Linked DNA regions of Homo sapiens: regions 2, 3, 4 and 5 are each linked to region 1. The links come from fine-mapping of genetic effects on gene expression. A gene starts in region 1. Each other region holds a variant in brackets. All regions are shown on one strand. Distances are between the middles of the regions. Region 1 holds the start of FHIP2B (FHF complex subunit HOOK interacting protein 2B). Region 2 has its middle 7.7 kb from the start of NPM2. Region 3 holds the start of LGI3 (leucine rich repeat LGI family member 3). Region 4 overlaps PEBP4 (phosphatidylethanolamine binding protein 4). Region 5 overlaps REEP4 (receptor accessory protein 4).

Region 1 (6,326 bases):
TGGACTGCAGGCTCCACACCACAGCACAGAGCCCACTCTGGGCAGGTCAGCATTTCCTGTGCCTCAGCCCCACTGGGGAATGGGTCCTAAAAGGTGAGGCAGGTCCTGTGAAGCCCGAGACCCCAAAACTCTAGGTTCTATAATTCTGACAGGGGCTATTCTTCCTTCCCGAGGGAAACTGATTCCTTTCCCTCTCGTCATATTGAGAGGTGACAGCGTGCTGGCAGTCCTCACAGCGCTCTCGGCGCCTCCTCTGCCTGGGTTCCCACTTTGGCGGCACTTGAGGAGCCCTTCAGCCCACCGCTGCACTTTGGGAGCCCCTTTCTGGGCTGGCCAAGGCCGGAGCCGGCTCCCTCAGCTTGTAGGGAGGTGTGGAGGGAAAGGCACGAACGGGAACCGGGGCTGCGCGCGGCGATTGCGGGCCAGCTGGAGTTCCGGGTGGGCTTGGGCTTGGCGGGCCCCGCACTCGGAGCAGCCGGCCGGCCCTGCAGGCCCCGGGCAATGAGGGGCTTAGCACCCGGGCCAGCAGCTGCGGAGGGTGTACTGGGTCCCCCAGCAGTGCCAGCCCACCGGCGCTGCGCTCGATTTCTCACCGGGCCTTAGCTGCCTTCCCGCGGGGCAGCGCTCGGGACCTGAAGCCCGCCCATACCGGAGCCTCCCACCCGCTCCGTGGGCTCCTGTGCGGCCGGAGCCTCCCCGACGAGCGCCGCCCCCTGCTCCAGGGCGCCCAGTCCCATCGACCACCCAAGGGCTGAGGAGTGCGGGCGCACGGCGCGGGAGCACGGCGCGGGACTGGCAGGCAGCTCCACCTGCAGCCCCGGTGCGGGATCCACTCGGTGAAGCCAGCTGGGCTCCTGAGTCTGGTGGGGACGTGGAGAACCTTTATGTCTAGCCCAGGGATTGTAAATACACCAATGGGCACTCTGTATCTAGCTCAAGGTTTGTAAACACACCAATCAGCACCGTGTGTCTAGCTCAGGGTTTGTGAGTGCACCAATCGACACTCTGTGTCTAGCTGCTCTGGTGGGGCCTTGGAGAACCTTTGTGTCAACACTCTGCATCTAGTTAATCTGATGGGGACGTGGAGAACCTTTGTGTCTAGCTCAGGGATTGTAAACGCACCAATCAGCGCCCTGTCAAAACAGACCACTGGGCTCTACCAATCAGCAGGATGAGGGTGGGGCCAGATAAGAGAATAAAAGCAGGCTGCCCAAGGTAGCAGTGGCAACTCGCTTGGGTTCCTTTCCACACTGTGGAAGTTTTTTTCTTTCACTTTTTGCAATAAGTTGCTGCTGTTCGTTCTTTGGGTTTCCCACTGCTTTTGTGAGCTGTAACACTGACGGCAAAGGTGTGCAGCTTCACTCCTGAAGTCAGCGAGACCACGAACCCAACAGGCGGAACTAAAAACTCCAGACGCGCCGCCTTAAGAGCTGTAGCACTCACCGCGAGGGTCTGCAGCTTCACCCCTAAGCCAGCGAGACCATCGAACCCACTAGAAGGAAGAAAGTCCAAACACATCCGAACATCAGAGCAAACTCCAGACGTGCCACCTTAAGAGCTGTAACACTCCCTGCAAGGGTCTACAGCTTCATTCTTGAAGTCAGTGAGACCAATGAACCTACCAATTCCGGACACAATATGATGTCAGTGATAAGCAGAGACACTGGTTTTTGTTTCTTAGAGAGACACTATTTTGCTGTCACCCAGTCTGGACTGCAGGGGCACGATCATAGCTCATTGCAGCCTCGAACTCCTGGGTTCAAGTGATCCTCCTCCCACCTCAGTCTCCCGAGCAGCTTGGACTACAGGCACATACCACCACACCTGGTTATTTTGTATTTTTATTTTTTGTCAAGACAGGATCTTCATATGTTGCCCAGGCTGGTCAACAGCCTTGGCCTCCTAAAGTGCTAGGATTTCAGGCTTGAGCCACCACACTCAGCTGCAGACTTTTTTTTTTTTTTTTTTTTTTTTGAGACGGTCTCACTCTGTTGCCCGGGCTGGAGTGCACTGGCACGATCTTGGCTCACTGCAACCTCTGCCTCTCGGGTTCAAGTGATTCTCCCACCTTAGCCTCCACATACCACCACGCTTGGCTAATTTTTTTGTATTTTTAGTAGAGACGGGTTTTCACCATGTTGGCCAGGCTGGTCTCAAACTCCTGGCCTCAAGTGATCAAACCGCCTTGGCCTCCCAAAGTGCTGGGATTACAGGTGTGAGCCACCGCCCACAGCCCATAAACATTTTCTGATAGCCCTGTCAAAAAAGTAAAAAGCAACACGTGAAGTTAATTTTAACAATATACGTTATTTAACCCAACACACCTAATAGTCATTTCAATATGTAATCAATATAAGCCATGGTTGTTGCAGTTTCACACTTTCCTTTCTTACTGTATCTTCCAAATCGGGGTGTGCTTGGCACGGCACATCTTGGTTGGGACCAGCACATTTCAGGAGCTCATCAGCCCATGTGCCTGGGGCTGACTGAGACTTCAATTCAGGAGGAATTGTAATTTCTCTTCGAAAACACCTCCCTTAGCTCCCGCCTTAATCCCAGCTACTCAGGAGGCCCTGGCGGGAGGGTCGCTTGAGGCCAGGAGCTGGAGATCATCCTAGGCAGCACAGTGAGACCTCCCCTCCCAGTAAAAAAACAAAAAAAAAAAACAATTGGCCAGGCGTGGTGGCGCGCGCCTGTGGACCCAGCTACTCTGGAGGCCGGGGTTGGAGGATCGCATGAGTCCAGGAGTTGGAGGCTGCAATGAGCAGAGATCGCGCCACTACACTCCAGCCTGGGCGACCAAGCGAGACCCTGTCTCGGAAGAAAGGAAAGAAAAAAAAAAAAAAAAAAAACACCTCCCAGCCAACTCTCAGGGCCCACCGCTGGCGGTTCCCAGCCCGACTGGGCGCCCCCAGCCGGGGTTAGCCAGCGCCACGCAGCCGGGCCGGGAAGGGGCGGAGCGGCCGGGCCCCGCCCCCCTCGTCGCGCCGGGGCCGCCGGGGCCACGGGGCTGCCTCCTCCGCCTAGAGCGCTGCCGCCGCCGCTTTCGCCCGGGAGCCGGGGGCCGGGCGCCATCATGCTGAGCCGGCTCGGGGCGCTGCTGCAGGAAGCCGTGGGGGCGGTGAGGCCGGCAGGGCCGGGCCGGGCCGCCGGGAGTCGCGGGCCTAGGCCGGGCTGGGCGGGCGCGGAGCCGGGCGCGGCCCGCAGGAGGGCGGGCGGGCGCGGGCCCCCTCGGGCAGGGACCCCCGGGCCGCGGCGCCCCTTCCTCTGCCTCCCCGGCCGCGCCCCGCTTCCCCTCGCTCTTCCCAGTCCCGCTCCCAGACTCCTCCCGACCGCCCCACCTCCCCGGCCTGCTCCCGCGTCGCTTCCTGTCTGTGCGTCCTGGCCCCGGAGTCTCTCCCAATTCCCGAACTCGCCTCCGCCGGGACGCTCCCTGTCACCGCTTGGGGTGTTTCCTGCCCCCCGGGGCCCTAGGCCGCCTCCCCCCAGTCCCGGTGGGCCTGCCTCCTTCCTCCGCTCCACCCCACCGCCTCGCCTGGGCTTGAAAAAATCGCCGTCCCTTCCCCTCGGTCTGATCTCCCAGACAACTCCAGGACCTTGTTGGGGTGCAGGACGCCCTTCCCGTCACCCCGGGACGTGGGAAGTGCAGGCCCTGCCGGTCCAAGTCCCCACGAAGGGTAAAGACCCGGGGCAGGCTGGTGGGCCCCCAGCCGGGGAAATCGCCTTCTATTGGGTGCAGATGTTTCCAGCGTGGCTGTGACCCCTCACAAGCCAAATTGAGTTAGGGACATGCCGCCCGTGGTGGGGCCTGGGTGGCCCTGTGCGGGGAGGAGAGTCCATTGATGTTTCACGTGCCGTCAGTTTGTGTTTTTGCCATTTTTTGTTGGGGCTGCAGGCTGGCAGGCAGCCTACTACTAGGGTTCGTTCAGCAAGATGTAGCGCTGTGTAGGAAGGGTGGGGGTATTCCCGGTAGGGTGGGGGGGGTGCCCGCTGTTGAAAGTAACTCTGCCAAGAAGCTGTCTGTAAAGTCAGCAATACTTCTGCCTCCTAGTATAAATCTTCCCCCAATTGATGAGTTGAGTATCAGATTTTCTCAGGAGAGAAAGTCTTGGGTTTCACCCTCCTTCCTCCCCACCACCTCCTCCCCAACCCTCATGGGAGCTCCTGTTGAAAGAAGTTTGCCTTAGGCAAAGTTGGGAAGAAAGTCAGAAACTATGACTTCCTCCACCTTCCCAGCCCTGCTGTTGACCCAGGGCCAGGGCCTTGGGGCATCCAGGTAGAGAGGGTTCCAAAATGATTTTTCTTCCCCTTCCCCCATCCCCAGTCAAAACAGCTGTGATCTTCAAAAGTGATCTGATAAACCAATTCATACCTCTGGGGAACACTCCATTTACAGGAGGTGAGACAGGCCAGACAGTTCCTCAGTCCTGAGGAGTGAATTTCTTTCTTTTTCTTTTCTTTTTATTATTTATTTATTTATTTCTGAGCCCAGGCTAGACTACAGTGGTGCGATCTCCGCTCATTGCAGCCTCCACCTCCTGGGCTCAAGCAATCCTCCCACCTCAGCCTCCTGAGTAGCTGGGACTACAGGCATGCGGCACCACGCCAGGCTAATTTTTGTATTTTTTGTAGAGACAGGGTTTCAACATGTTGCCCAGGCTGGTCTTGAGCTCCTGGCCTCAAGCGATCCTTAGCCTCCCAAAGTGGTGGGATTACAGGCATGAGCCACCGCACCCGGCTAGGAGTCAAATTCTAAGGCTTCCAATGACAGAAGTACAGGCATCAGTGGCAGGAGATTTTGGCAGTGGAGGGAGATCTTTTTAGGCAGGTGATCTTCCGGGCCCTTTAGTATTGACCATATAGGCTATGTCCGGGCGGTGTGGTTGGCCCTACAGGGAGACGGGAATTCCTCTTTTGTGCTCTACCCTCAGGTCGCCAGTCTAGGTCTTTCCCAAGCCTTGGTCACCAAGTGTGATCCTAGTAAGTCAACTGATTACTCATTGAGTAGGAAGACTGCTCCTTCCCGCCCTCTTCTGATCTAACAGATTAGGAATCATTACAGCTTTTTTTTTTTTTTTTTTTTTTTTTTTTTAAGATGGAGTCTTCCACTGTCACCCAGGCTGGAGTGCAGTGGGGCGATCTCAGCTGACTGCAACCTCCACCTCAAGTGGTTCTCCTGCCTCAGCCTCCTGAGTAGCTGGGACTACAGGGCTGCGCCACCACGCCCAGCTAATATTTGTAATTTTAGTAGAGATGAGGTTTCGCCATGTTGGCCAGGCTGGTCTCGAACTCCTGACCTTAAGTGATCCACCTGCCTTGGCCTCCCAAAGTGCTAGGATTACAGGTGTGAGCCACCACCATGTCTGGCCACTAATAATATCGTTAAAGAGAAATTGTTGGGTCTAGTGCCTTTGGTTTGGAGTTATCATAGCTGGTGGTGGAGTTAGGTAAAGATCACACACCTGTGTCACCAGCTCTCTAATGGCCTGTGCTGGTTAACCTGCCTCTCCCGTGTCTCCTGCCGTACTGGAGTATTCTTTTTGGTTAAAGCCCAGCTCAAGGTTTTCAAAGACTATAAGCCAATTTTGAGGCTAAAGGAGACCCCATCACAGAAATTATGAGATAATTGTAGGGCTGGTGAAGGGCCAGAGGACTTTCTAAAACAAGGAACTAGGGAAAGAATCTCTCCAGGAGTTTCCTGAGATATCTGGTAAATATTCATGGGTATTCACTATGTGCTGAGCCCATTGAGGGCAGGCTAGCTGTAAAACACAGAACCCTGGCTCTCAGGGAGCTCATCATCTAGCAGAAGAGATGATTGCTCAGCACAGCAGGCACTGTCACATAGAATGTAGTGAGATGCGGTCACTGCACAGGGATGGAATATTTGGAATAACTGTGGGTGGTGCTACTTTTGAGAAGGGTTGCAGCCCCTACCAACTAGCTTTGCAAGAAGACAAGATGCCCTGCGGACTGAGGGGAGTTTCCAGTTCTGTGAATGTCATCCCTCCCTCCCCATGTTGCAGTGGCCTTCTAAGCATATTCTTCCTGCCTTTACCTCCTCTCCCAAGGCCAACTGCCAGATGAGTCTTCCGAAAACACTGCTCAGAAGGTGCCAATGGCCGGGTGTGGTGGCTCATGCCTGTAATCCCAGCACTTTGGGAGGCCCAGGTGGGCGGACCACTTGAGGTCAGGAGTTTGAGACCAGCCTGGCCAACATGGTGAAACCCCGTCTCTACTAAAAATACAAAAATCAGCCAGGCGTGGTGGCACATGTCTGTAATCCCAGCAACTTGGGAGGCAGGAGAATCACTTGAACCCAGGAA
Region 2 (6,326 bases), 73 kb before region 1:
TAGTAAATATAAAAAAAAGAAGGGCCAGGTGCAGTGGCTCACACCTGTAATCCTAGCACTCTGGGAGGCCAGGATAGGAGGATCCCTTGAGCTCAGGAGCTCAAGATCAGCCTGAGCAATATAGTGAGACCTCATTTCCACAACAACAACAAAAAAGTTAATTAGCCAGGCATGGTGGTGCATTCCTGTAATTCCAGCTACTTGGGAGGCTGAAGTGGGAGGATCACTTGAGCCAGGGAGGCAGAGCCTGCAGTGAGCCATGATGTTACCACAGCACTGCAGCCTGGGCAACAGAGCAAGGCCTTGTCCAAAAAAAAAAAAAAAAAAGAAAAAAGAAACACATACACACACACAAAACTCACTAAGAATAACCCAACTTTAAAATGGACAAAATAGTTGAACGTGCATTTTGTAAAATAAGATTTACAAATGACCAGTAATCACGTTGAAAAGAAACTCAAAATCACTTGTCATCAAGAAAATGCAAATAAAAACTACAATGAAATGCCACTATACATCCACTAGAATGGCTAGAATTAAGAACACTGAATGCCAAGTGTAGGCAAAGATGTAGAATAATTAGAATTCTTATACATTGGCTGGGTGCGGTGGCTCACTCCTGTAATCCCAGCACTTTGGGAAGCTGAGGCGGGTGGATCACAAGGTCAAGAGATCGAGACCATCCTGGCCAACATGGTGAAACCCTGTCTGTACTAAAAATACAAAAATTAGGTCGGGCACAGTGGCTCACACCTGTAATCCCGGCACTTTGGGAGGCTGAGGCGGGTGCATCACGAGGTCAGGAGTTCAAGACCAGCCTGGACAAGATGGTGAAACCCGGTCTGTGCTAAAAATGCAAAAATTAGCTGGGCATAGTGGTGGGTGCCTGTAATCCCAGCTACTCAGGAGGCTGAGGCAGAGAAGTGCTTGAACCCGGGAGGTGGAAGTTGCAGTGAGGTGAGATTGCGCCACTGCATTCCAGCCTGGGCGACAGAGTGAGACTCCGTCTTGAAAAAAAAAAAGTACAAAAATTAGCTGGGCGTGGTGGCACACGCCTGTAGTCCCAGCTACTCGGGAGGTTGAGGCAGGAGAATCGCAAGAATTCTTATACATTATATGTAGAAATGTAAAATGGTACAGCATAGCCAGACATGGTGGCACATGCCTGTAGTTGCAGCTACACGGGAGGCTGAGGTGAGAGGATCACCTGAGCCTGGGGAGGTCAAGGCTACAGTGAACCATGATCATGCCACTGCACTCCAGCCTGGACAACAGAGTGAGAACCTGTCTCAAATATAAAAATAATAAATAAAAGGGTACAGCATGTCAAAGTAGTTTTGCAGTTTCATATAAAGCTTAACATATGCTTACCACATATCCAGCAATTCCACTCCTAGATGTTTACCCAAGAAAAGTTAAAACATACATCCAAAGGCTTGCTCTCAAATATTCATAGCCGTTTTATTCACAATTGTTTAAAACTGGAAAGTTCCCAAATGTTCACCAACAGGTCTATCTGACAGGGACTTACTGCAAGGAATTGGCTCATGTGATTATGAGCACCAACCAGGAGAGTATGAAATCTATAGGGCAGGCCATCAGGAAGAGCAGCTTGGAAGGGGGAGAGGAGCAAGGAGCTGAAGCTGCAGTCCCCAGGCAGGACTTCAGGAAAACCTCACTTCTGTTCCTGAAGTCTTTCAACTTATTGGGTGAGGCATACTCACATCATCAAGGGTAATTCCTTTAACTCAAAGTCAATGAATTGTAGATGTTAATCACATCTACAGATTACCTTGATAGCAACACATAGACTAATATTTGCTTGAATAACTGGGTCAATAGCCTAGTCATGTTGACACATAACACTAACGGGCAGATGACTGGATAGACCAATTGTGGGATACTCCTCAACCAAAACAAGAAACAAACTGCTGATACAAGCACCAGTATAAATAAATAAATCTCAAACACATTTTGCTTAGCAAAAAAAGGCCAACAAAAAGACCCTGTAGGATTCTACTTATATGAAGTTCTAGAACAGGCAATACTAATCTGTAATGTCAGAAAGCAGATTAGCATTTGCCTAATGCCAGTTAGGCATAGCAGGGGGTGGGGCAGGGGGCATTGACTGCAAAGGGAAACAAGGAAAGTAGGAAGGGACAATGGAAATTATATCTTGACTGGGGTGATGCTACATGGGTGTATACATTTGTCACAACTCATCAAACTATACAGTTAAAATGAATGCAGTTTTTTGGGTTTTTTTAGACAGAGTCTCACTCTGTCGCTGGAGTGCAGTGGTGTGACCACAGCTCACTGCAGCCTCAAACTCCCAAGCTCAAGTGCTCCTCCCACCTCAGCTCCCAAGTAGCTAGGACTACAGGAGCGTGTCATACCACCTGGCTAATCTTTTTTTCCTAATTTTTTTTTTTTTTTTAACGGAGTCTCACTCTATCACCCAGGCTGGTCTTGACCTCCTGACCTCAAGCCATCATCCTGTCTTGGCCTCCCAAATTACTGGGAATACAGGCGTGCGCCACTGTGCCCGTTCAAGTGCAGTTTTTTGTATATAAATTATTTTTCAATAAAGTTAATTTAAAAAGAAAAAGCTAATTCCTGCACAGCAGAAGCCCAGCTCATGCCAAAGAGATAGAGCCAGTTCCTCTGGCACCATTTTAGAAAAGACCACCCAGGCCAGAGCGGTGGCCCATGCCTGCAGTCCCAGCACTTTGGAAGGCCGAGGCAGGCAGATTGCTTGAGGCCAAGAATTTCAGACCAGCCTGGCCAACATGGCTCTACTAAAAATACAAAAACTTAGCTGGGTGTGGTGGTGCATGCCTGTAATCCCAGCTACTCAGGAGACTGAGGCACGAGAATCACTGGAACCTGGAAGGCAAAAGTTGCAGTGAGCCAAGATCACACCACAGCACTCCAGCCTGGGGGACAGAGTGAGACTCCAT[CAAAAA/C]AAAAAAAAAAAAAAAAAAAAAAAAGGAAAGAAGGGAGGGAGGGAGGAGAAAGAAAAAGAAAGAAAGATGGAAAAGACCTAGACATTTTTCCAAAAAGACAAACAGCCAACAGGTGTATGAGAGGATGCTTCAACATCACTAACCATCAGAGAAATGCAAATCAAATCACAGTAGATATCATCTACCACCTGTTAGGACAGCTATTATTTAAAAAAACAAAAAACAAAAAATGGGCCTGACGCAGTGGCTCATGCCTGTAATCCCAGCACTTTGGGAGGCCAAGGCGGCTGGATCACGAGGTCAGCAGATCGAGACCATGCTGGCTAACATGGTGAAACCCCGTCTCTACTAAAAATACAAAAAAAAAGTAGTCAGGCGTGGTGGCGGGTGCCTGTAGTCCCACCTACTTGGGAGGCTGAGGCAGGAGAATGGTGTGAACCCGGGAGGTGGAGGTTGCAGTGGGCTGAGATCACACCACTGCACTCCAGCCTGGGCAACAGTGAAAAACTCCGTCTTAAAAAAAAAAAAAAAAAAAAAATCGCCCACGCCTCTAATCCCAGCACGTTGAGGCCGAGGCAAGAGGATCACTTGAGCTCAGCAGTTCAAGAGCAACCTGGGCAACATAGTGAGACCCCAACTCTACAAAAAAAAAAATCAAGAAATGTACTGGGCATAGTGGTACACACCTATAGTCCCAGCTACTCAGAAAGTTGAGGCAGAAGGATCGCTTGAGCACAGGAGGTCAAGGTGGCAGTGAGTCGTGATCATGCCACCACACTCCAGCCTGGACTGCAGAGGGAGACCCTGCCTCAAAAAAACAAAACAATTGTTGAGGATGTGGAGAAACAGGAACATTTGTACATGCTTGGTGGGAATGAATGTAAAAGCTGCTAAGGAAAAGAGTATGGAGGTTCCTCAAAAAATTAAAAATAGAGGCCAGGCATAGTGGCTCATGCCTGTAATCCTGGTGCTTTGGGATGCCAAGATGGGAGGATTGCTTGAGGCTAGGAATTCAAGACCAGCTTGGACAACATAGCAAGACCCTGTCTCTCCAAAAAAAAAAAAATTAGCCAGACATGGTGGCGCACACCTGTAGTCCCAGCTACGTGGGAGGCTGAGGTGGGAGGATCGCTTCAGCCTAGAAGTTCAAGACAGCAGTGAGCCATGATCACACTGCACTCCAGCATGAGTGACAGAGTGAAACCTGTCAGCAAGAAAATAAAAATCGAATTACCTGTGTTCCAGGAATCCCACTCCTGACTATATATCCAAAGGAAATGAAATTAGAATCTCAAAGGGATATCTGCACTTTTGTGTTCATGACAGCATTATTCACAATAGCCAAAATATGAAAACAGCTTAAACACCCACTGATGGACGCAGGATATAGAAAATAGTACATACATACAATGGTATATTATTTAGCCTTGAAAAAGAAGGCAATTCAGTCCTCTAGGACAACCTGGCTGGACCTGGAGGGCATTATGTTTAATGAAATAAACCAGACACAGAAAGACAAATGTGCATGATCTCACTCATGTGGGATCTAAAATAGTCAAAATAACGAAAGCAAGGAGTATAGGAATGGTTGCCAGGCACTGGGAGGAGAGGAAAACGGGGAGGTGATGGTCAAAGTGTACAAAGTTTCAGTTATGCAAAATAAATCTGGAGTCCAGTATGCAACACAGTGTCTAGAACTAACAATACTTAGTAACTACAGTAGAATACTTACTATCTGCTAAAAGAATAGATCTTACAGTAAGTGTTCTTAATGAAAAAACACAGGCCAGGCATGGTGGCTCACATCTGTAATCCCAGCACTTTGGGAGGCTGAGGCAGGTGGATCACCCGAGGTCAGGAGTTCAAGACCAGCCTGACCAACATGGTGAAACCTCGTCTCTACTAAAAATAAAAAAATTAGCTGGGCTTGGTGGTGGGTGCCTGTAGTCCCAGCTACTCGGGAGGCTGAGACAGGAGAATGGCTTGAACCTGGGAAGCAGAGGTTGCAGTGAGCTGAGATCATGCCACTGCACTCCAGCCTGGGCAACAGAGCGAAACTCCATCTCAAAAAAATAAATAAATAAATAAATAATAATAATAATAAAGAGGGCAAGAGAAAACTTTGGGAGCTGATGGATATGTTCATGGCCATGATGGTGGTGAGGGTTTCATAGGCGTATATTTATCCCCAAACTCAACAAGATGTATACCTTAAATCTGTACAGCCTTTTACACATCAATCATACCTCATTAAGGTGGTTTTTTAAAAAAAAAAATCAATGAACTTTATATATGGATGAGAAATTTCCTAGGTGGAATTGTAGGGTAAGAATACCAGGAGAGACAAAAACCATATAATCATCTCAATAAATGCAGAAAAAGCATTTGATAAAAGTCTACATCCCTTCATGATAAAAATTCTCAACAAGTTATGCATACACGTAATATGCCTTAACATAATAAAGGCCATATATGACAAACCCACAGAAGGCTAACATACTGAATGGGAGAAAGCTGAAAGCCTTTCCTGTAAGAACTGGAGCAAGACAAGGATGCCCACCTTCACCAGTCGTATTCAACACAGTTCTGTAAGTACTAGCCAGAACAACCAGGTAAGAGAGAAATAAAAGGCTTCTAAACTGGAAAAGAAGGGGCCGGGTGCAATGGCTCACGCTTGTAATCCCAGCACTTTGGGAGCCCAAGGTGGGCAGATCACTTGAGGTCAGGAGTTCAAGACTGGTCTGGCCAACATGGTGAAACTGCATCTCTATTAAAAATACAAATATTAGCTAGGCATGGTGGCTGGCACCTGTAATCCCAGCCATTCAGGAGGTTGAATAAGGAGATTCGCTTGAGCCCAGAAGGCAAAAGTTACAGTGAGCCAAGATCACGCCCCTGCACTCCAGCCTGGGCATCAGAGTAAGACTCTGTCTCAAAACAAAATAAAACAATAGGCCGGGCACGGTGGCTCACACCTGTAATCCCAGCACTTTGGGAGGCCGAGGTGGGCAGATCACGAGGTCAGGAGATCGAGACCATCCTGGCTAACACGGTGAAACCCCGTCTCTGCTAAAAATCCAAAAAAAAATGGCTGGGCGCCATGGCAGGCGGCTGCAGTCCCAGCTACCCGGGAGCCTGAGGCAGGAGAATGGCGTGAACCCAGGAGGCGGAGCTTGCAGTGAGCAGAGATCGCGTCACTGCACTCCAACCTGGGCAACAGAGTGACACTCTGCCTCAAAAATAAATAAATAAATAGGCCGGGTGCGGTGGCTTACGCCTGTAACCCAGCACTCTGGGAGGCTGAGGCAGGTGGATCACCTTAGGTCAGGAGTTCAAGACCAGCCTGACCAGCATGGAGAA
Region 3 (6,326 bases), 69 kb after region 1:
TCTCCTCCCAAATTCACTGCCTGCCTTCACCAGGGTCCTCCCCTATTGCCTCTTGGGGCACCCATGGCCCCAGGCTCAGCTTCCCTCTCAGGCAAGAAAAGGTTCCATCACCCACACCGTTGTCATCATCATCCAAACACCCACAATGGGCTGGGTGCTGTTGAGAGATGGGGCATGGGGGTGGGGGCTGGCATCCTGGTCCCCAAGGACCTCACAACCTCTCTGGTCCCACAGACAAGGGGGAGCCCCTGAGGCTGGCTGTTGTGAGTGACAGGCTGGCCGAGCTGAGTGCCAAGTGGCTGGTCAGTGGCGGGCATGTGCCCCATGCCAGGGTGCTGGGAGGGCATAGCTCATTCTCATCCTGCTCTGGCCGCCACTCTCCTGCCCTTGGTGTGACATCACAGGCAGGGGCCCACATGCTCGTGTAAGCAACCCCCCCAAGTCTGGAGCACAGCACACAGTAGGTCTCACTGTCGCTCGTGGTGATGATGATTCATTCTTGGTGGTGAACTCCTGCTTTCCCCACCCATGGCCGCTGAGCCTGCAAAACTGCAGAACTCCCTGCCCGACTGGTGCCTGGAATCTCCAGCCCTGAGGACCCCTGCAGTCCCCCTGGTCCCCGCACTCTGAAGAGGGGGAGCGGGGGTTCTCCTGTCCTCTCCCAGAGCTGTCCTCGGCCTCCTCTCCCTCCCCAACCCCCAAGGCCAGGGCTGGACACTCACAGGGAGATGACCTCCGAGGGCAGGTTCCTGGGCACCGCCTTTGAGTCCACGCAGAAGGCGGTGTCCCTGGTGCAAGAGCAGCTGGGCGGGCAGGGGGGCGTCTTGGGGGGCCTCTTAGCGCTGACTTGCAGCATGAGGCAGAAGCCGAGCGCGGAGAGCGCCAGCAGCCCCGGCCCCGGGCCCCCCCTGGCCCGCAGCCCCGCCATGCTGCCCGCGATCTCTCCCTGGGGCCGGCGGCCGCGGCCCCCGCCCCACCGCTCCCGCGGCTGGGCCACCCCGCGCGGGCTGGCACCTCCCTGCCACCGGCAGCTGCTACCGCAGCCAGGGGCCCGCCTGCGGACTCCTCCTGCCCTCGGGCGCCGGCTGCGGTCCCCTCCCCTGCTCGCTCCCGCGATCCGGCTCGGGAGAGAAGAGCGGAGCGCGGAGCTGGAGCCGCAGCCGGGGCTGACCGCGCCGGGTGGCTGCGGACTGCGGCGCGGGCGGCGGGGGCGCGCGCGGGGCGGCGCGGGGCCTGGGAGTCACGGAAGGGGAGGCGTGGCCGCTGTGTGCTCTACCGGGCGGTCTCTGGGGCCATCCGCGTGTGGGGCTGCGCGTGAGTGCATGCGTGTGAGCTTGTGCTTGTGCCTCTGCTGGGCACGACTGTGCGCGCCGGTGCTCACCTGTCTCTGCACGGGCACATGCACTCACTGCCTTGTGGAGGCGCTTCGGCGTTAGGGATCCCTGTGCTTCTGTCTACCTGGGTTTCTTTGCATGGGGGGACACATCCCCTAGGCAGCATCATGGGCATGTCGTGAGTGACAGACGCATATCTAAGTTAGCATGCAAGATTAGAAGCACAAGGGCGTCCTGGAGGAGTCTGAAGTGCGCTTCTAACCGGATTCACATGTTTTTCCACGCGCCGCTGAACAGAATGTACCTTTGTGTCAGCATGAGCTGAAAAGGGAAACGCAGCCTCTGGAGCTGGAGTGGGACTGTGTGGAATTCTGGAACATTTCTCACGCTCAACCACAGCCTGTTAAAGCTGGGAAGCGCTTTGGATATTTTTCAGTCCAGCCCTTTGTCTAACAAATGAGGAAACTGAGGCCCCCTAAGCTTGCTATCGCAAGTGCTCTGTACTTTCCCTACTTAATCCTCTCAATCGTTTGAGGCAGGTGATAGTAATTCCCTTTTACAGACAAGAAAAGTGAGGCCTGTCGCACCAGAAGAAAAAGGTATCAGCAGGGATTTCCGCCCACTCTGCCCAGCTTCAAGGTTCACGGTCGTCCTTCCATGCACGGCTCTTCCAAGTGTAGCCCTGGGAGCCCGGGGGTCCTTGAGAACCTTTCAGGAAGTCTCTGAGGTAAAAACAATTTTCCTAATATTGTTAAGACATGATTTGCCCTTTTCACTTCTATGAAGCTCCAAATTTAAAAGATTTCCAAAACTGTAAAGAAATGACACTTTCTCTCTAATTTTATTTTGCTTTGTAAAATAATTTTGCTTTGTAAAATCGTTTTTCCATTAAAAATGTGATTTATGTCATAACCTATATTGGGTTTATTACTGATATTTTAAATTCACATGTAAATAAAAATGTAATTTCTCAGTAAATATCAACAGACATATCCCACATAAACAAAAGCTCTTGGGGGTCCTCAATACTTTTTGAGAGTGTTAAGGGGTCCTGAAAACAAAAAGCTTGAAGACTGCTGCTCTCTACCACGTTAGCTCCCCTGTGGCGGAGGATGACTGTCCTAAGAGCTCATAGGCACGGGGCAAGGGGAGCCTGGCTGTCAGCTGCCTGGGCTTCTAGTCTTGTGCTTTTTGCACACCAGTCCAGGGAACGAAGACCACT[G/A]GCTTTAAGATGCTTCCCCAGCTGTCCCCAGACTCTGCCAGCAGGGGATTCTCTGGTCTGAGCTTAAGTTGTGTTCTCCCAGCCAGGGATGCCCCTGCCCTTTGATGTCTCCTTGCTGCCACACATTTAGCCGCCCTCCCCATGCCAGCTTGGGGGGAGGGAAGCAGTGAGGGTAGGGAGGTGGCTGGGGCAGCTGGGCAACTGTCCCCACCCGTCCCTGGCACGGCTCTGCCCAGTACACAAAGAGCAAAGTGAATCTTGTCCCCACCCCTGCAGCTGAGGGGCTGGAGGAGGAAACGGGGAGGCCCACACAGAAGGGGTGGCCACCGTGGGGCTGTCCATCACTCAGGGCTCTCAGAGGGAGTCAACCCAGAAACAGACAAAGAGGGTGAGTCTGGGCTGTGTTCTTAGCTAGTGAGAGGTCCCCTAGAGGATGAAGTAGATGATGCTAATGAGGATGACTGGATGTCACACCCATGATGCTATTAGGTCCTCATAATAGCATAGTGAGGTGGACAGCTAGTACCTGACCCATCTCACAGATGAACATACTAATGCCTAACAAAGCAGAACGACTCACGCTGGGTCCCAGAGCTGGCCAGTGGAAGCACTGAGACCTCCACATACTGAAGGCATGGACTATTGACCGCTGTTGGTATTGGTCTCATCATTGACTATCATTAAGTGTTGGCTGTTTGCATGCTTCCTGCCCAGTGGCAGGTTCAAAGAAGCCCGCAGGAAGCGTGCTCCTTTCTTTCCCAGGGCCCGCAATTGGGCTGGAAGATAGAGCAACAAAAAGCGCCCATGTAACTCATGGGAACATTCATGTGTGCTGAATGGCAGGTGAAGGTGCCACAGAGAGGCTGAGGATTTCAGAGGGCACCATGAACTGGAGTGAGGTCGCAGAGCAGGTGCCATTGGCTCTTGGCCTGTTTGGGTGGGTGGCATTCAGAGAGGTGGAAGGTCAGATGCACTGTTCACGCCTGTAATCTCAGCACTTTGGAAGGCCAAGGTAGGAGGATCACACGAGGCCAGGAGATCAACGCTGCAGTGAGCTATGAAGCTGTGATTGCACCACTGCACTGCAGCTTGGGTAACAGAGTGAGACCCTGTCTCTAAATAATTAAATAAATAAAATAAAAATAAAACCGGAGAAGTGGAGAGGGATTGGAGGTGGGCTTTCACAGAGGGAGAAACGGCTTAAGTACAGGCCAAAAAGTGAGAAGGCTGCAGACAGGGCTGGTAGGGGGAGGGGGAAATTTGGCACACCCAGCTAAAGGTCCTTCTGTGTCTCCTTCTCCAAGGAACCCAAGACCTTCACTTGGTTGGTGTGAGCACTCCAGGAGGCAGGCACCCTCCCTCAGCCCTCAAGCAAGCAAAAATGGGTTTAAAAAAAGAAGGAGAAGAAGCAGCAGCAGCAGCCGCCACAGAGCTTGTGACAGCTACAGCCTAAGGGCAACAGGCAGGGGAGACCAAGGACCAGAAAGAGCAGAGGCTTTTTCAAAGAAAGAGATCCCTCTCCCAGCACCCAGCGATGGCGGCAAACCCCACCCACAGTGCCTGCTAAGAACAAGTCCCACGTGAGAACAACATGGCCCCCCGAGATGCCCACAGGGACCCCGAGATGCCTGCAGTGCTTGGCTCTCCCGCTGGCCAGCTGCCCACCTGGCTCAGGCCCAGTACTCGTGAGTCAGCCGATCAATCCCAATGTTGCCAGGATGATGGGGGCGGGAGTAAGGGCCCTGGGGGAGGGCAGGGGTGGGCACTGCAGGCGAGCTGTCTCCCACATCTGGCACCTGCACACAGCTGAGGCCGAGCTGAGAGGATGCTTCTGTGGGCTCCCCCTCCTCCCGGCACCCCTCCCCTCCTTTCACTGTCCTAGGACACTCTCTGGCTGCTGGAGTCTTAGGCAAATATTTAAAGGGGCAGCAAGGGGGTGAGGAGGGTGGTGGGAGCAAACACTTCCCTCCCTTTCTTCCTCCCTGCGCTTCTCAGGGGCTCTCAGTTCAGATGCCATGCTGTTATGCAACCTTGGGGCTGAAGGCCCTCCAGATGGAGAGGGGGACAGGGGAACCTGCCAGCTCATGACCGAAGGGCAGGGCCCAGGTGGGAGGGGGCTGGGGCAGGGGACAGGAACTGGGGTGGCATGTTAAAGGACAGGAGGCTGGTTGGGCATGGTGGCTCACACCTGTAATCCTAGCACTTTAGGAGGCCGAGATCACTTGAGCCCAGGAGTTCGAGACCAGCCTGGGCAACATGGTGAAAACTCATCTCTATAAAACAAGCAAAAATTAGCTGGGCACAATGGCATGCACTGGTAGTCCCAGCTACTTGGGATGCTGAGGTGTGAGGATCACCGGAGTCCAGGAGGTCAACGCTGCAGTGAGCAGTGATCTCGCTACTGCATGCCAGCCTGGGTGATAAAGTGAGACCCTGTCTCACAACAAAACAAAACAAAACAAAACAAAAGGATAGGAGGTTAAGGGAGCGAGCCCAGGCCTGGACTCTGCCACAGTCACCTGAGTTTAGAGGTGAAGGGACTTTAGAGACCACCTGGCCCAAGGAGTGAAAGGGAACCTGAGAGAAAGGGTGAGCCAGCCCAAAGTCATTGGCAGATTTGACCTCGTAAATACATAGAGATGGCTTTGGGAAGGCACTAGGAAAGACAGAGAAAAGAGAAGGAGACAGTCCTCAAAGCTGATCGTATTTGGGTGAGTATTATTCTCAGGGCAAATTTAGGATCAGAGGATGCAGAAAGGGGAGTCTAGAGGGGTAGAGTGTAGACCACAGGGTGAGTGAGCTGATTCGAGGATGGGGAGACTGGGAGCCCACCAGTGACCAGAGCCAGCCCTGTTCAGGGCTGTCCGGGCAGAAGAAAGCAGTGTCAGACCTGGAATCTGCCATCAGCACAGCCTGCAATTGACAGACAAGCCCAGAGCAAAGAAGGAAGCACTGCACATGAGTAAGAGCTTGCCACCAGTGGGGACAGAGTTTCCAGAATTAGGAAAATAATCACTGGGGGCAAGTTTGAGGTTGGTACCAGATATGTGGGAGGAGGCAAGGTAAGGGAAAGAGTACTTGAAGTTGGAACTGGTCCTTGCAGGGAAATGCACATTTATGAAACCCCGAAAACTGATGTCAAAGCACCTCCTGCCTTGGGCAGAGTCCTCTCAGAGTCTACAGGTGCTGCCTCCAGAACCCTCTTCCTGGAGCGCATCCCTATGTATCTAGAAATTCTGCTGGGAAATATGATGGTCAGACCCTTGGCCACCTGAAAGGTTCAGGGTGGTAGAAGAAAAAGGAAAGCCACAGGGCAGCAGGGGCAGGTGCCAGCAAGGAAGGCAGGCACGCCAGGAAGACACCCATGGTGAGAAGTGCAGATGGCCCGAGGGCAAGTTTGCTCAACTCACCCAGGTTTGCTCTTGCTGGGGCCAAGAGGACTCATGTGCCAGGGCCAAGGGCCCTTGGGGGCTCTCACAGGGGGCTTATCTGGGCTTCGGTTCTGGAGGGCCAGGAACAAACAGGCTTCAAAGCCAAGGGCTTGGCTGGCACACAGGGGGCTTGGTCCTTCACCTCTGTCCCCTCTCCCTACGGACACATATAAGACCCTGGTCACACCTGGGAGAGGAGGAGAGGAGAGCATAGCACCTGCAGCAAGATGGATGTGGGCAGCAAAGAGGTCCTGATGGAGAGCCCGCCGGTGAGTGTGGTTGCGTGTGTGTATGTATGTGTGCGCGCGCACATGTGTGTGATGGGCCCTGCCTCCTCTA
Region 4 (6,326 bases), 830 kb after region 1:
TTAACAAATAACACATGATACTGCTCTTCTAAAAATCTGCCAAACCTTTCTCAAAACTCCCCTTTAGGCCACAACCTTCTTTCACCAGTGAGAGCAGGCAACAAGTCCCTGTAGCATTCAAAATGCTCTTCCTTCTAAATGGCTCCCACAAAGGCCGGCAGCTATTTTAAAATCCAAGAAGCCTTTGCTGACACTCCCAACATACCGCTGTGAACAGATCCCAAACATGTGAAGAGCCCTACACTGACGCTTGTTCAATGCCTTTAAAACAAACAAACAAAAAAACAACCCAGGATGCAAATCCATTGAGTGCTCCTTTCAGGTCCCATGTGCCCCCTTGGTAGATCAGCGCACACAGTTTTTTTCAAAGAAACAGTATTTGATCTGAGAAACATCTGGAACCTGTTTCCCCAGCACTTGGCTGGGAGCTTTCAGTGGATGTCAGCGGCCCAATCGCTGAGCGTGCACCCTGCCTGCCTGAGCTGCCGGCAAGATCTATCGGACTGGGGGTGGCGGATTGGGTAAGGGGGGGCGCTGTTTGATTAAAAGCTGCTGGGGGCAGGTTCAGGTCTGGCAGGAAGTTCTGGAATGACAGAGAAGGCCACGAGGATAAGGAGCCCTGGGAGTGAAGATTAAGACTGGGAATCCTCCTAATGGAGCCACCCTGAGTAAGACAGTCGCCGGAGCACGTGGCCGTTCTGTTAAGGTTTCCCCTCAGCCATTAAGTGTTTAACAGACAAGTGATAACAACAACAATGGACATTCTCACTATTGCAAGATGCCCATCACAGGCAGGGCAGGGGTGCGTTCTGTGTGTATCCCTCACTACCGGAACAGTACCTGGCAGAGGGGCAGAGAGTGGAGCTCCATCCGGATCTGCTCCAGTGAATACATGAATGACTGAATGACACCCCCTCTCCACTGTCAACATTACAGGCCTGTTTTCAGGAACCGGGGGATTCCGGAGGCAAAATTACATAGGTGAAAGGTAGTTGACTGCAAGCCAGGGAAGCTGCCATCCGGGGCTGGTTCTCCCACTTCCCAGGTTTGGCAAGTGTGACCCTGGGCAGCGCCCTCATCTGTCATCAAGGGGATAATCCCCGCTCTATCCATCGCCCCATGTTGCTAGGAGGATCTGTCCTGTGAAGTCCTGCATAGGAAGTGTCTTTGCAACCTGAACATCTAACTGCAAAGGTTAGAAATGCTGACAATCCTCACTCCCCTTTCACCCAGTCCAGTTGCACCCAGAGGAGCCCCGGATGACCTGGCTGGGGACCTGGGCTAGAGTGGGACACAGCTGAGTGATGTTAGCACTTTGACTACTTGCACTGAAGGAGCCAGGGACAAAGGATAAAATGACCTGATTCGTCCTTGCCTGGGTGCTGCGCGCCCTCCTCACCTGCCTTCCCACACCTGGCTCCGCCTGTTAGCACCTGAGCCCTTCATTTACAAGCTCAGCGGCCTCCTGTCCCCTCTGCCTCTGGGCCTCAAACACACACAGTTCTCCTGGAACCTTGGAAAGTCCAACTCTTCTTTTGTGTCTTCTGTCCTTCAGACTACAAATCCATCTCTTTCTATTGTAGTGACAACTGATCCCATCCATGAAACTCCAGTTAGGTGCTCGGCACCAAATACAGTGGCATCTCATGAATTCTTCCCTAAACCCTCACCTGATGCACTGGTGATCTCCCCAGGGTGGCCCCTTACCCTGTCCTGACTTTACCTTCTGCTCCCAGCCCGCAGTCCTGGAACGATCCAGATCCAGTGGCTCTTCCCCAGCCTGGCCCCATGCAGCCTCTCCCAGCAGTGGAGCCTGGTGACTCCTGCTCCCCATTCCTGCCTCTTCCCTGCACCTCCCTCCTCTGTGCACCTTTACTTCTTCTGCAATGTCCGTGACATCATCATTCCCCACGCTCTGCCCCAAAGTCCTTCCACCCTGCAATTTCATGACATTGCCTCTTCCCCCTGCAGTAGGGGCTTGGCTGGCTGAGCTCCAGCTCCCAGGGCCAGCATAGGGCAGCCCCCTCCAGCCCCTGCGGCCACACCTGCACCCCTCCTGCCCACTATCCCCTTCCTCCTCCTCTTCCCTCAGAAGCATCTCCGGCACCTCCCACCCCTGACTTCCAGTCAGTGGCCAGGTCCCATTGGCTCCAAAGGAGCTGGACACCCTTTGAAATATCCTCCTAACTCCCACCATTCACACCGTTTATCACCTTGGAATGAGCATTTCCAGTCGACCCCTCAACCCCTCCTTCTGCTGTATTTTGACACTGCCCTTTTATTGGCTCCTTCCTGCCAGAATTTACTTATTTATTTAGAGTTGGGGTCTTGCTCTGTTGCCCAGGCTGAA[G/C]TGCAGTGGCACAATCATAGCTCCTTAGCCTATTGCAGCCTTGAACTCCTGGGTTCAAGTGATTTTCCCACCTTAGCCTCCCCAGTACCTAGGACTACAGGTGTGAACTACCAGGCCTGGCTACTTTTTTTTTTTTTTTTTTTTGAGACAGAGTCTTGCTCTGTTGCCCAGGCTGGAGTATAGTGGCGCGATCTAGGCTCACTGCAACCTCTGCCTCCTGGGTTCAAGTGATTCTCCTATCTCAGCCTCCCAAGTACCTGGGATTACAGGCATGTGCCACCACACCCAGCTAAGTTTTGTATTTTTAGTAGAAATGGGGTTTCACCATGTTTGCCAGGCTGATCTCCTGACTTCAAGTGATCTGCCCACCTCAGCCTCCCAAAGTGCTGGGATTACAGGCATCAACCACCATAAGGCCTGGTTAACTTCATTTTTTTGTAGAGATGGGGTCTCTAACTCCTGACCTCAAGCAAATCCTCCTGTCTTGGGCTCCCAAAGTGCTGGGATTAGAGATGTGACCCACTTCGTAAATATTACTGAACACATACTGTGCCCAGCCCCTGCCAGCACTTAAACATTCGCAGGCATCTCTTCTCCCCTGGCAAAGCGGTGGTGTGAGTAGCCTACTCCATGGGATCCACTCCTCATTCACTCCTTGGTCCCCTCACACGGGTAACCAGTGGCTTGCTGGGGTAAGGCAGTGCGTGCGTTTCCTGTGGCCTCACCCAACCTCTCTGGCTGGCTGCTGTTGAGCATAGCAGAGCCTACCCGCAGGTAAACCTGTCCTCCTCTCAGAGTCCACGCCTGCTGGAACACTGAGGATGCAGACCCAGGTGCCCAGCCCTGCCTTCTCTTCTGGAGTCAGATGGCAGACCTGCCTCTCGGGCAGCTACCTCTGGATGCTACAGCCTCCTCAAACTCTATGGGTTTCTGTGCAGAAGTCGGTGCCAATGGCTGCCATCCCTGTAAAAAACCCAGTGCTTCTCTGTGTCCCCTTCTTGGTGAAGGCACCGTTATTAGAGTTAACATATACCCCAGCTTGCCAGCGCCATGCCCAATGACACACATTGTCCTGGCATAACTATTAACAGCATCCCCCTTTAGTCTCAAAAGGGTCCTGTCTTAGATGAGAAATTATATACTCAACCTCATTGTTACCCACTCGCCTGCTCATCACAGAAACCCGAGGGTCATCTGGACTCTCCCTCTCCCCAATATCCCCACAGCCCCCAAGCTCTATGGGTTCCACGTCCTTAACACCTTTTAAGCCCAGCCCATGGTCCATGCCATCACCTAGGTTGCAGGGTGGGCACCTTGCCTTCAATCTTACCTTTCTTCCATTCTTCCACCTGCTGCTGGAGTGACCTTCCCAAATTGCAAATCTGATCACATTTACCAGCCTAAAAATCAAATGGTGACTCTCCTCCCCCAGCCACCAGCCAAACTTTAAGATAAACTCTAAACTCCACACCAGGGCCATGAAGTTCTTGGCTCCTAACCATGGATGTGCCCCTGCCCTACCCGCCCCGACCCCCGACCCAACCACAAGCCTCATCCCTCACCTCACCATCCTGGCTCCCATCTGTCCCTTGCTGGGTCCCGGCTCACTGACACCCTGTGTCCCCATGCTTGCCCGCTACCTGTCTATCTCCCCAGCTATACTGCAAGCTCCGTGATAGTGTCTTTCGTCTCTGAATCAATAGCACTGACATGGTGCCTGATGCAATGTGTTCAGTAATATTTACGAAGTGAGTCACCGCCCATCCCCAACACCAAATAGTCCATGGCGGCTGCAGTCCCCTGAGCCAGTGGGCCTGCACTTGACCGCCTCCACATGTAGGAGAGGAGACTCCACATGTAGTCTACTGGAAGACGTCTCTGCTCCATCCATTAGGGTCTGTTCTTCTAGAATTGCTGTGGGTGTTGGGAGCCCCGTGTCCTTCCTCGGCTAATCATTTTGTGACTGCAGCAGCCTGTATTTTTCTGCTCTGTGTATACAGAGAAGGGTTGGTAGGGGCGGTGGACCTGTGAGTTCCGAGCTCTCTTATAGAGAGGAGAGTTCCAGGCCTCTAGAAAATTTGGGTTGAAACTTGTGTCTCCACCATGGGCCAATGAGGGCGAGAAGGTGCTCCCTGGGAGGCTGCGGCTAGAGGCCTGGGCTGGCATGAAATGCACTGACCCAGGTGGATAGGGCACTCAGGGCCACCTGCTTTGTGAGGAGAAGAAATAGTGCCTGGGCCAAGCCTGATTGGAAACTCCAGGGAGAGCAGGACAGACCGAGGCAGCCTTTTGTTCCCTCCCTGTAATGCAATGCACATTCCCCACTTAAAGGCAATTTCTGCACTTCAAAAGGATTCCAGCTGGCGAAATTTAAGGTGGAGAATAAGCCCCCAGTCAAGAAGCTTCTCAGGGGCCTTTCAGTTTTCCTTGGCTTGAGAACGGGATGCATTTTTAAATGTTTGCCTCTTCATGTTTGTCAGAGCGCCAGGGGAGAAACGCTTCCTCTTACTTCCACACCTCTCTCGCTCAGCCATAGCTGGCACGGGAGCCAGCCACGTTTTCCTGTGTTACTTTGCCTTCTCATGAACCTGCCTGACTTCCTCTCTTTCTCTGCCTGCTTCCCCACCCACCCCCCAGCTCACACCCCACCCCTAGGGGGAGGAGAGAGTCCTGCTGCCCTGGGTTCACTAGGTTTAGCAGCTTTCCTTCAACAGATGCTGAAAGGGCCGACAGTTTGGCTGACACAGCTCATAGCTCACACTCCAGGAGATGCTCTCCCACATGTCATTCATTCATTCATTCATTCATGCATTCATGCATTCATGCATTCACCTGTTCACTCTCTCACCTAGTCACCCAGTCAGCCAGCATGGCATCTGAGGTGCTGGTGGGGCCCACGGGTGACTCAAAGAAAGACAACACATAGTCTTTCTCTCCTAACTTACAAAGTGCTTGAAGCTTTGAGAGACAGGAATGAGCAACTACAGCACAAGACACAGGGAAGTCAAAACCCAGTTTAGAGGGTAGGAACATTTTAAAAGCACAGAGAAAGAAAAGATCAGCCAGGGATGTAGGTGGAGCCCAGAGGGAGGCAGTCAGGGAAGGCTTCCTAGAGGAGGAAGCATTGTGACGGGAGCAGGGTCCAAAGACGCCAAGGATGGGGAAGTGGCCAATGCCAGAATATGGAGGTGGGAAGCTCTATGGTGGGCACAGAGGCACTGCTGCACCCCTCTTTCCAGGGCTTTGGAGTTTGCTGGGGGCGGGGGAGGGGGGGGTGTTCCCAGGCATGTCCAATGGCAGTCACTGCTTTGGTGGCATTGCTTCAGTCACCTTGGAAGCAATGCACCATCCCCACATAGCAGTCACCAACTCGTGCCCTTCTCCATCAGGCCCAGAAGAAATACCTTCATGCTCTTCTCTGTCCTAAACACTCAGGCTCCCCGCACCCTTTTCTTGAGGGACCCAGGTAGCACTTGCTCCTCCAGCCTCACCAGTCATGCCCTCTCCCTTAAGGGAAGCTCCAACTACCACCTTCCCTAGGAAGAACTATCCTTCCTGCCCACCCCCTTCCATTCTAACCAGGGAAAGCTTCCCTTCGGCCAGCCCACCCCTGCCTGTGCCAGCGCCCCCTGGTGTCTCCCTTAGAGCCCTTGCCAGTGGCCCACTGGCCAGGCCCATGGGCTCTGGAGTTGGGCAGACCTGGCTTTGACTCTGGCTCTGGCACCTTTCAGCTCTGTACTTGGCCAGATTACTCACTTCCATAGGACCTGCCTTGCATTTCCTACCTAACATCCTTTCACCCTTATCTGATCAATCACACCTTGACTTGCATTCAGGGCAACCATCCTCCTCTACTCTCAGTCCTTGTAGATTAAGGGGAGCTGTAGAGGGTCACTGCTAGGTTCAGGGATAGGCACAAGACCAAAGCGAGACCAATCCTGTGACTTTTAATGGATGGAAAACCCTATTTCCACTG
Region 5 (6,326 bases), 49 kb after region 1:
CCCTCTGTCCCCAGCATGTGTTGGAATTCATACAACTGCAGTCAGCCGTTCACCAAACCCGTGTTCTAGGGGCCTTGGCATGTTCAAGGCTTGGCGGTGGGCCCCAGGCGATGCAGGGCACAAAGGCAGAAATCACGAGGCCATCCCACCCGCCCGGCCTCCCCCACCCAGAACATATGGTCACTTCACGCATTTGTTCTTTCACCAGCAAAACTCCTCCAGGCTTCTTAGGTATTGGCCCTGTGCTGGGCGCTGGGGGTGTTGGGCTTGTTCATGAATGATTACAAGATGCTTCTAGTCCCACCCTGGGGAAGTCAGGGGAACTTCATGGAGGAGATCAGAGAATGAGATCAGGACTTCACCACCCAGTCGCGAAGTTACAAAAGTATTTCACTTCGGTTAGACCATTTGTTCCAGGCTGAGCTACAACAGTGTGTAAAATACGTCTGTCCTTTATGAAGTCACAACACAGTGGGGGAGAAAAGGTCACATGCTCAAGGCAACAACAGAAGTCTGTGCAAGAACAGAGGTGGTGTGGTCCAGACAGCAAACCACTCCGAGGTGAGGGAGTGCTTGCGGAGGGCTTCCAGTGGAGGTGATGTCTCAGTGGGGTTCAAAGGGCAAGTAGAAATGGGACAGAGTTGGATGGTGGAGGAAGAGCATGTCAGAGGCCAGCACGCATAGGGCCACACGGAGCCATGAGACAGTCTGATGAGATGGTGAGGACAAGGCATCGCAAGCTCTGCCAAGGGGCCTGGGTGGCCGTGTGGCCCCCTCCAAGCACCCATCCTAGGAGGGAGGGCAAGTGAAGCCCCCACCCCAGTGAAATCTCCCTCACCACCCCACGACTTCAGGCCTCTCCCCAACTCTTGTTTTCTTTTACTCCGTTTTGTTTTGCCATTCATCATATGCCCTTCTGGGTTTGTTATTTTTTTTTTTTTTCTGGAGATGGAGTCTTGCTATGTCACCCAGGCTAGAGTGCAGTGGTGCAATCTCGGCTCACTGCAACATCTGCCTCCCGGGCTCAAGCGATTCTTGTGCCTCAGCCTCCCAAGTAGCTTGGATTACAGGCACGCGCCACCATGCCCGGCTAATTTTTGTTTTTTTTAGTAGAGACAGGTTTTCACCATGTTGGCCAGCTGGTCTCGAACTCCTGACCTCAGGTGATCCATCCGCCTCAGCCTCCCAAAGTGCTGGGATTACAAGGGTGAGCCACTGTGCCCGGCGCCCCTCTGGTTTTGTTCTCTTGGTTTGGGTACATGGATCCTGCCAGCCCGCCTCTATCAACGCAACTCCCAGGCAGAGGTGCATCAGGAGTCAGGGTCCCCGACTCACAAGCAGCACAATGGTACACAAGTTGTTGTGGCTCTCCAAGCCTCGGTTTTTCATCTGTAAAATGGGTATAGCCCTGTGGGTGCAGTGGCTCATGCCTGTAATCCCAGCACTTTCAGAGTTCAAGGCAGATGGATCACTTGAGCCCCAGAATTCAAGAACAGCTTGGGCAACATAGTGAGACCCCGTCTTTACCAAAAAAATATGGTAATTAGCCAGGTGTGATGGAGAGTGCCCGCAGTCCAAGCTACTCAGGAGGCTGAGGTGGGAGGATCCCTTAAGTCCGGGAGTTCGAGGCTGCAGTGTACTATGATCATTCCACTGTATTCTAGCATGGGTGATTCAGTGAGAACCTGTTTTAAAAAATGGATATAGTCCCTATTTGACAGGCTTGTTGGGAGGATTCAAGGAAATCATCTCTGTAAAATGCCCAGCACAAGGTCAGGCACACAACAAATATTCCATACATGTTAGTCTCCATGTCCTTGCCTCCCAGGCAGGAATCATCTCCTTCACTCTGGTACTGCTTAGTGATTAAGTGCACAGACTCTGGAGCCAGACTGCCTGATTCCAAGCCCTTCTGCTATGTACTAGCTATGTGACCTTGGGCAAATCACTTGCCCTCTCTGTGCCTGTTTTCCTGTTTGGAAAATGGAGACTGTAAGACTAGTGTGTACCCACCCCCCAAAGATCGTTATGAGAATTAAATTAATATATGCCAGGGGCTTAGAGCAGCGTCTGCGTGGGCAGCCACACTCTGGGCGCCAGCCGTTACTACTGCCTGCATCCCTGCAGTGTCTGGCAACATGTCTGGTACCTGCTCGAGGCTCAATAAAGATTCATTTTTGAATGAATTAATGAAGCGATAAGACAACCCCACGATGCAAAGGCAGGCCATGTTGGACGCCAGTGAGCCCCTATACGTGAGAAGCTAAATCACCGCAGCAGATTAAGAGCCTCCCCCAAATAAAACCTGGATAATCCCCACACCAAGAGTTAATCCACACTCTCTGGGGCCACTCCAGGTTACCACCCCATTTCCCCTCTTCTCATCCCACACTCTCACCCACCTCTTTGCTTAATCAATCAAAAGCAGGGAGGAGGAGCAGGTGCAGCAGTGGCAGAGGGGCGCACCCCGGGCATCATGGTGAGACCAGCACCGGGGCAGTAGAGGGCAGAGCTGGGTACCCCGGTTGCCCCAGGGATCGGAGGAGTTGGAGTGGAGCCAGCCAGGCAAACAGCCTTGGTCTCAGGAGAGCAGAGACTCCTTGGATGGGGCAGGCCAAGGACCAGTGACCACAAGCAGCAGGGAGGGCCACTGAGTTCCGCCAGGCCCAGCAGGGCGAGGCTCTGGCCAGTCTCCCAACCCCACCCTCCTTGACCTGGAAGCCGGGGGCAGCCCAGATCCCAGACACTGCTGCCCTCTCGTGGCCACTCCTCAGAGGTGCAATGGTGCCCCTGCGGGTACCTGACTGTTTACAGAACTTAATGTCCCCAGAGCTGCCCCAGGGGGCTCCTTCTTCCAGGCTCCTGGAGGAGATACTCCTCCCCAGGTCTCCTCTGCCTAGCTTCGACCTCCCTATGGGACTAACGTGCTGCCCCAAGCCCCTCCTGCCTGTGCTCCCACTGGTTTCTCTATAGCTGCACCTTCCTGCCAAGGCCTAACTGAAGTTTCGGGTTCTGACCAGTCCTCTGGACTC[G/A]TCCCCACTTTCCCATCAGTGCTCTCAAAACTCCCCAAAAGCTCCTTCGTGAAACCATGTGCTGCATCACAACTCTCTGTCAATGGTTCTGTCTCCCCCAGAGGACTGGGCTCCTTCAGCCTTAGACCTAGGCTAGGACTGGGCTGTCCCATTTCAAGGGTGTGAGGCGAGCAACGGGAGTAAGAATCAGGAGAAACAGAGCCCCTTTATGTATTTATTTATCAAAACACTCGCAAACCTGACCTCACTCACCAACACACACACACACAACCAGGACACATGTGCCAGGCCTTATGAAAGGCTATCAAGTACTTTGAAGGACAGGAAGGAATGAACACACCCAGGTGGACGTTTGGTTTCATTTGCAGGGGTTCAGGGAGGGTTGCAGGGGTTCAGGGAGGGCTCTTGTCCCACAACCGGGGAAGGGAGAGGGCAGAGCAAGGCAATAAATAGAACCCTGGGCCCAGCCTGCTTTGGTACATTGTGGGTGCATCCCTGCATGTGGCCTTGGCAGCATCTGCTCCCGGCCCTTAACCATCAGCAGGAGTCAGGAGGGTGGGGCCCAGGCAGCTGGTGCAGGCAGGCCAGATGTGCAGCCCAAGGTCCCTCCAAATAGCCCTGGAGCCCTGCAGGGCACGAGGTAAGAAGGGGGCAGATGCAGCAGACCCTAGCTGTCCACGTCTGAGGGCACAGTCTTTTTCCTCGTCCGAACCTTCAGGGAGCGCGAGGTGCCCTGGGGAAAGGGGAGGCACAGCATGAGGGTGTGGGGAGCACCAGCCAGCAGAGCCCTCCTCCCTCCTGTCGTCCTCCCACACTGACCTCCCGCACCGGTGGCTTCCTCTTGACCACACGCAGGCTCTGGCTGCGGATTAGGGGCTTCTCTCGGGGCCGGGCTGGCGCCCGGGGGACTGCCTCAGTATCTGACCAACACTCATCCTCGGTGTCGCTGTCCTGCAGGCCCCCGGCCCGGTACCCTGTGTGGAGGAGGAGGTGAAGCTGAAAGCCTGCGACCAGGCCAGCCCTTCCTCGAGCCTTGGGGGAAGCCATGGTGTGAGTGAAGGAAGCCATCCCTCCTGGCATGGCTCTGGGCCCCTCTGCCCGCTCACCAATGGGTGGCCTCCGGTGGGACACCTGGTCCTCCAGGTAGAGGGGGTCATGGTAGGCAGGGGCAGGTGCGTCAGAGATGGAGCGCAGGTCCTGCATGGAGAAGCTCCGCAGCCTGCCGGCCAGCGCCCCCTGACTCTGCGAGGGGGAAGAGGCTTCAGCGGGGAGGCTGCCCAGGGATATTGGCCAACCAGCTAATCACCGGAGCTGAGACGCAGAAGTGAAAACTGCTCAGCAAGCTTCTGGCCCCGCGCCAATGTGGCACCAACAGGAAACCAAAGTCAGAGAGCAGGAGCCGCTGCTTACGCTCAGTGCCAGAGCCAGGAAGGAAGGTCTGACTCCAGCTCCACGCTTCTGCCAATACCCCCCCGTCACCTTCTCACCCCTGCTCCCCGGCTGCCATCTCTGGGCTCCCTGGCAGAGGAGCTGAATGAGCCCAAAGGGCCTTAGGGGTGGGATGGGGGCTGCTGGAGGGCTGGGGGCCCAGAGCACCTTGGTGGCAGCCTGCACAGCAGCGGAGGCGGCAATGTTGAGGCCCCGCTTCCCGAAGCTGAGCACGGTCTCGTAGCTGCGCTCCTTGGCCTGCACGATGTACGCGTCGATCTCCTGTGGACCCAATGGGGAGGAGAGCTCAGGTGGACAGCCAGAGTCCCTCTTCCTCTGCAGATTCTGAGAAGCCACTGGTTGTGGCGCCACCCAGCCCAGCCCAGCCCCACCTGGTGCCCAGAGCCACAAATCCGGGCCACAAACACAGACCAAGAGCAGGGCTGCCACCCGCTCACACCTCCATGAGTGGCCATGCTCCAGCTGCCGCCACCACTACCCCCAAACCAATTTCCATCCTCAAAGGTCATTCATGTGTACCCCCACCTGATTATCCCAGAAGATGAGGTAGGCTGGGCCCTGTCAAGGTCCTGCCCCTCAATAGCAGCAGGACTGGGATAGAACCCCGGTGTCCCCAGCATCCTAAATCCCAGGTCCAGGGCTCTTTCCCTCATACCCACCCCTAAGCCTCCCTTCCCGCTTCCCCCTGGGGTACCTTCTCATGGCGGGACAGGGACGGGTGGACAAACTTGCGGTAAAGCAGGCTGGCGCCCTTGGTGTAGGGTGAGAGCAGCCACAGCACGAAGGCCATCTTGATCTCATAGTAGAAAGGGAACCTGTCACAGCACAAGGGGCAGGGTGAGCCAAGGAGCAGGGCTGGGGGGGCCACCCCTGACCCATGGCTTGCGGACCCTGCGTCCATACCAGGAGATAAAAATGTCTGTAACGATCTCTGCTGCCATGAAGAGTGCAAAAACAATCCAGTACATCATCCACCGCACCTGTGGGGTGAGCGCCCAGAGGTCAGCATGGGGCCTGCAGCACCAACTCCCAACCCAGGCCAGCCCAGCCCAGAGATTCCAGGGAGCCTGTCCGGCTGCATAGCTGCTTTCCCCCACACATGGCTGGACAGGAGCTCTGAGAAACTGCTGCTCATTCCTATGCCCGCCTCCAACAAGCTTCACCCACCAGATCTTCCACAGGCACCCCGATGGCCTGCCCTCTATCTACACCCTCTTGAACAGGGCCCATTCTCTCTCCCTCCCCACTCCACTCAGGATGTGCCACACAGCCTTGCCCCTGGAGGAGGGAGAGGCCAACTGAGACCCTCCCCACCTCACCAAGTCCTATTAAACACACCCAAACCCCCACGCTCACATATTCACGAATGTTCTTGGTCTTCACAGCCTTATAGGAAGCATAAGCTGGACACAGCATCCCAAACACCAGCCTGGAAGAGCAGCCATGGGGAGTGTGAGGGGCACCATGCCCCACTCCCACCTTGCCAAGTGGCCATTTCCCCCCACTGGGGTGCAAGGTGGCAGTACCCGCCCTGTTTTTCTCGCTTGGCTTGTACAACCCGTGCCTGAGTCAGAGCCCTGGAGGCCACCTCCCCACCCTGCTGTTTACAAACATCCCAAGCCTGCCCAGGCCTGCACCGGTGGCCCATGGGTGCATGATGGAGTGAGAGGACAGCCACTCCACGAAGTGGGTGAGAACACCAGACTGTCCCCTCCCATGGGCATGCAATCAGGCCCAGGGTCACCAGACCTGACACTGCTGGGTTGCAGATAGGGCTATGTGAGCCAGATGTTGGCATACTCAAAGGTGAGGAATAGGATGGTGAGTCATGTGACTGCTCAGATG

Evidence for each region.
Region 2: its variant is fine-mapped to the expression of FHIP2B in whole blood (INTERVAL, PIP above 0.99).
Region 3: its variant is fine-mapped to the expression of FHIP2B in whole blood (TOPMed, PIP above 0.99).
Region 4: its variant is fine-mapped to the expression of FHIP2B in vagina (GTEx, PIP above 0.99).
Region 5: its variant is fine-mapped to the expression of FHIP2B in whole blood (TOPMed, PIP 0.90).

Annotation. Positions count from the first base shown.
Region 1 is chr8:22,086,178-22,092,503 of GRCh38, forward strand. FHIP2B (FHF complex subunit HOOK interacting protein 2B) reads left to right here and starts at 2,973. Exons shown (of 17, transcript NM_022749.7): 1 at 2,973-3,121. The coding sequence starts at 3,077. RefSeq lists enhancers at 4-613, 3,713-3,852 and silencers at 2,863-3,082, 3,143-3,202, 3,393-3,492.
Region 2 is chr8:22,013,232-22,019,557 of GRCh38, forward strand. No RefSeq gene overlaps it. Among named protein-coding and RNA genes, the nearest start is that of NPM2, 7.7 kb to the right of the region's middle. The variant CAAAAA/C (reference allele first, on the strand shown) is at 2,961.
Region 3 is chr8:22,155,615-22,161,940 of GRCh38, forward strand. It overlaps LGI3 (leucine rich repeat LGI family member 3), which reads right to left and starts at 1,192. Exons shown (of 8, transcript NM_139278.4): 1 at 723-1,192. The coding sequence starts at 928. It overlaps SFTPC (surfactant protein C), which reads left to right and starts at 6,184. Exons shown (of 6, transcript NM_001317778.2): 1 at 6,184-6,256. The coding sequence starts at 6,215. RefSeq lists an enhancer at 1,225-1,369 and a cis regulatory region at 1,297. The variant G/A (reference allele first, on the strand shown) is at 2,557.
Region 4 is chr8:22,911,512-22,917,837 of GRCh38, forward strand. All of the region lies in intron 3 of PEBP4 (phosphatidylethanolamine binding protein 4), which reads right to left. Among named protein-coding and RNA genes, the nearest start is that of PEBP4, 13 kb to the right of the region's middle. RefSeq lists enhancers at 113-884, 885-1,656. The variant G/C (reference allele first, on the strand shown) is at 2,351.
Region 5 is chr8:22,134,788-22,141,113 of GRCh38, forward strand. REEP4 (receptor accessory protein 4) reads right to left here. Exons shown (of 8, transcript NM_025232.4): 2 at 5,838-5,910; 3 at 5,385-5,461; 4 at 5,176-5,296; 5 at 4,629-4,742; 6 at 4,139-4,274; 7 at 3,852-4,006; 8 at 3,233-3,765. The coding sequence ends at 3,700. Among named protein-coding and RNA genes, the nearest start is that of REEP4, 4.0 kb to the right of the region's middle. RefSeq lists enhancers at 4,893-5,501, 5,502-6,109. The variant G/A (reference allele first, on the strand shown) is at 3,033.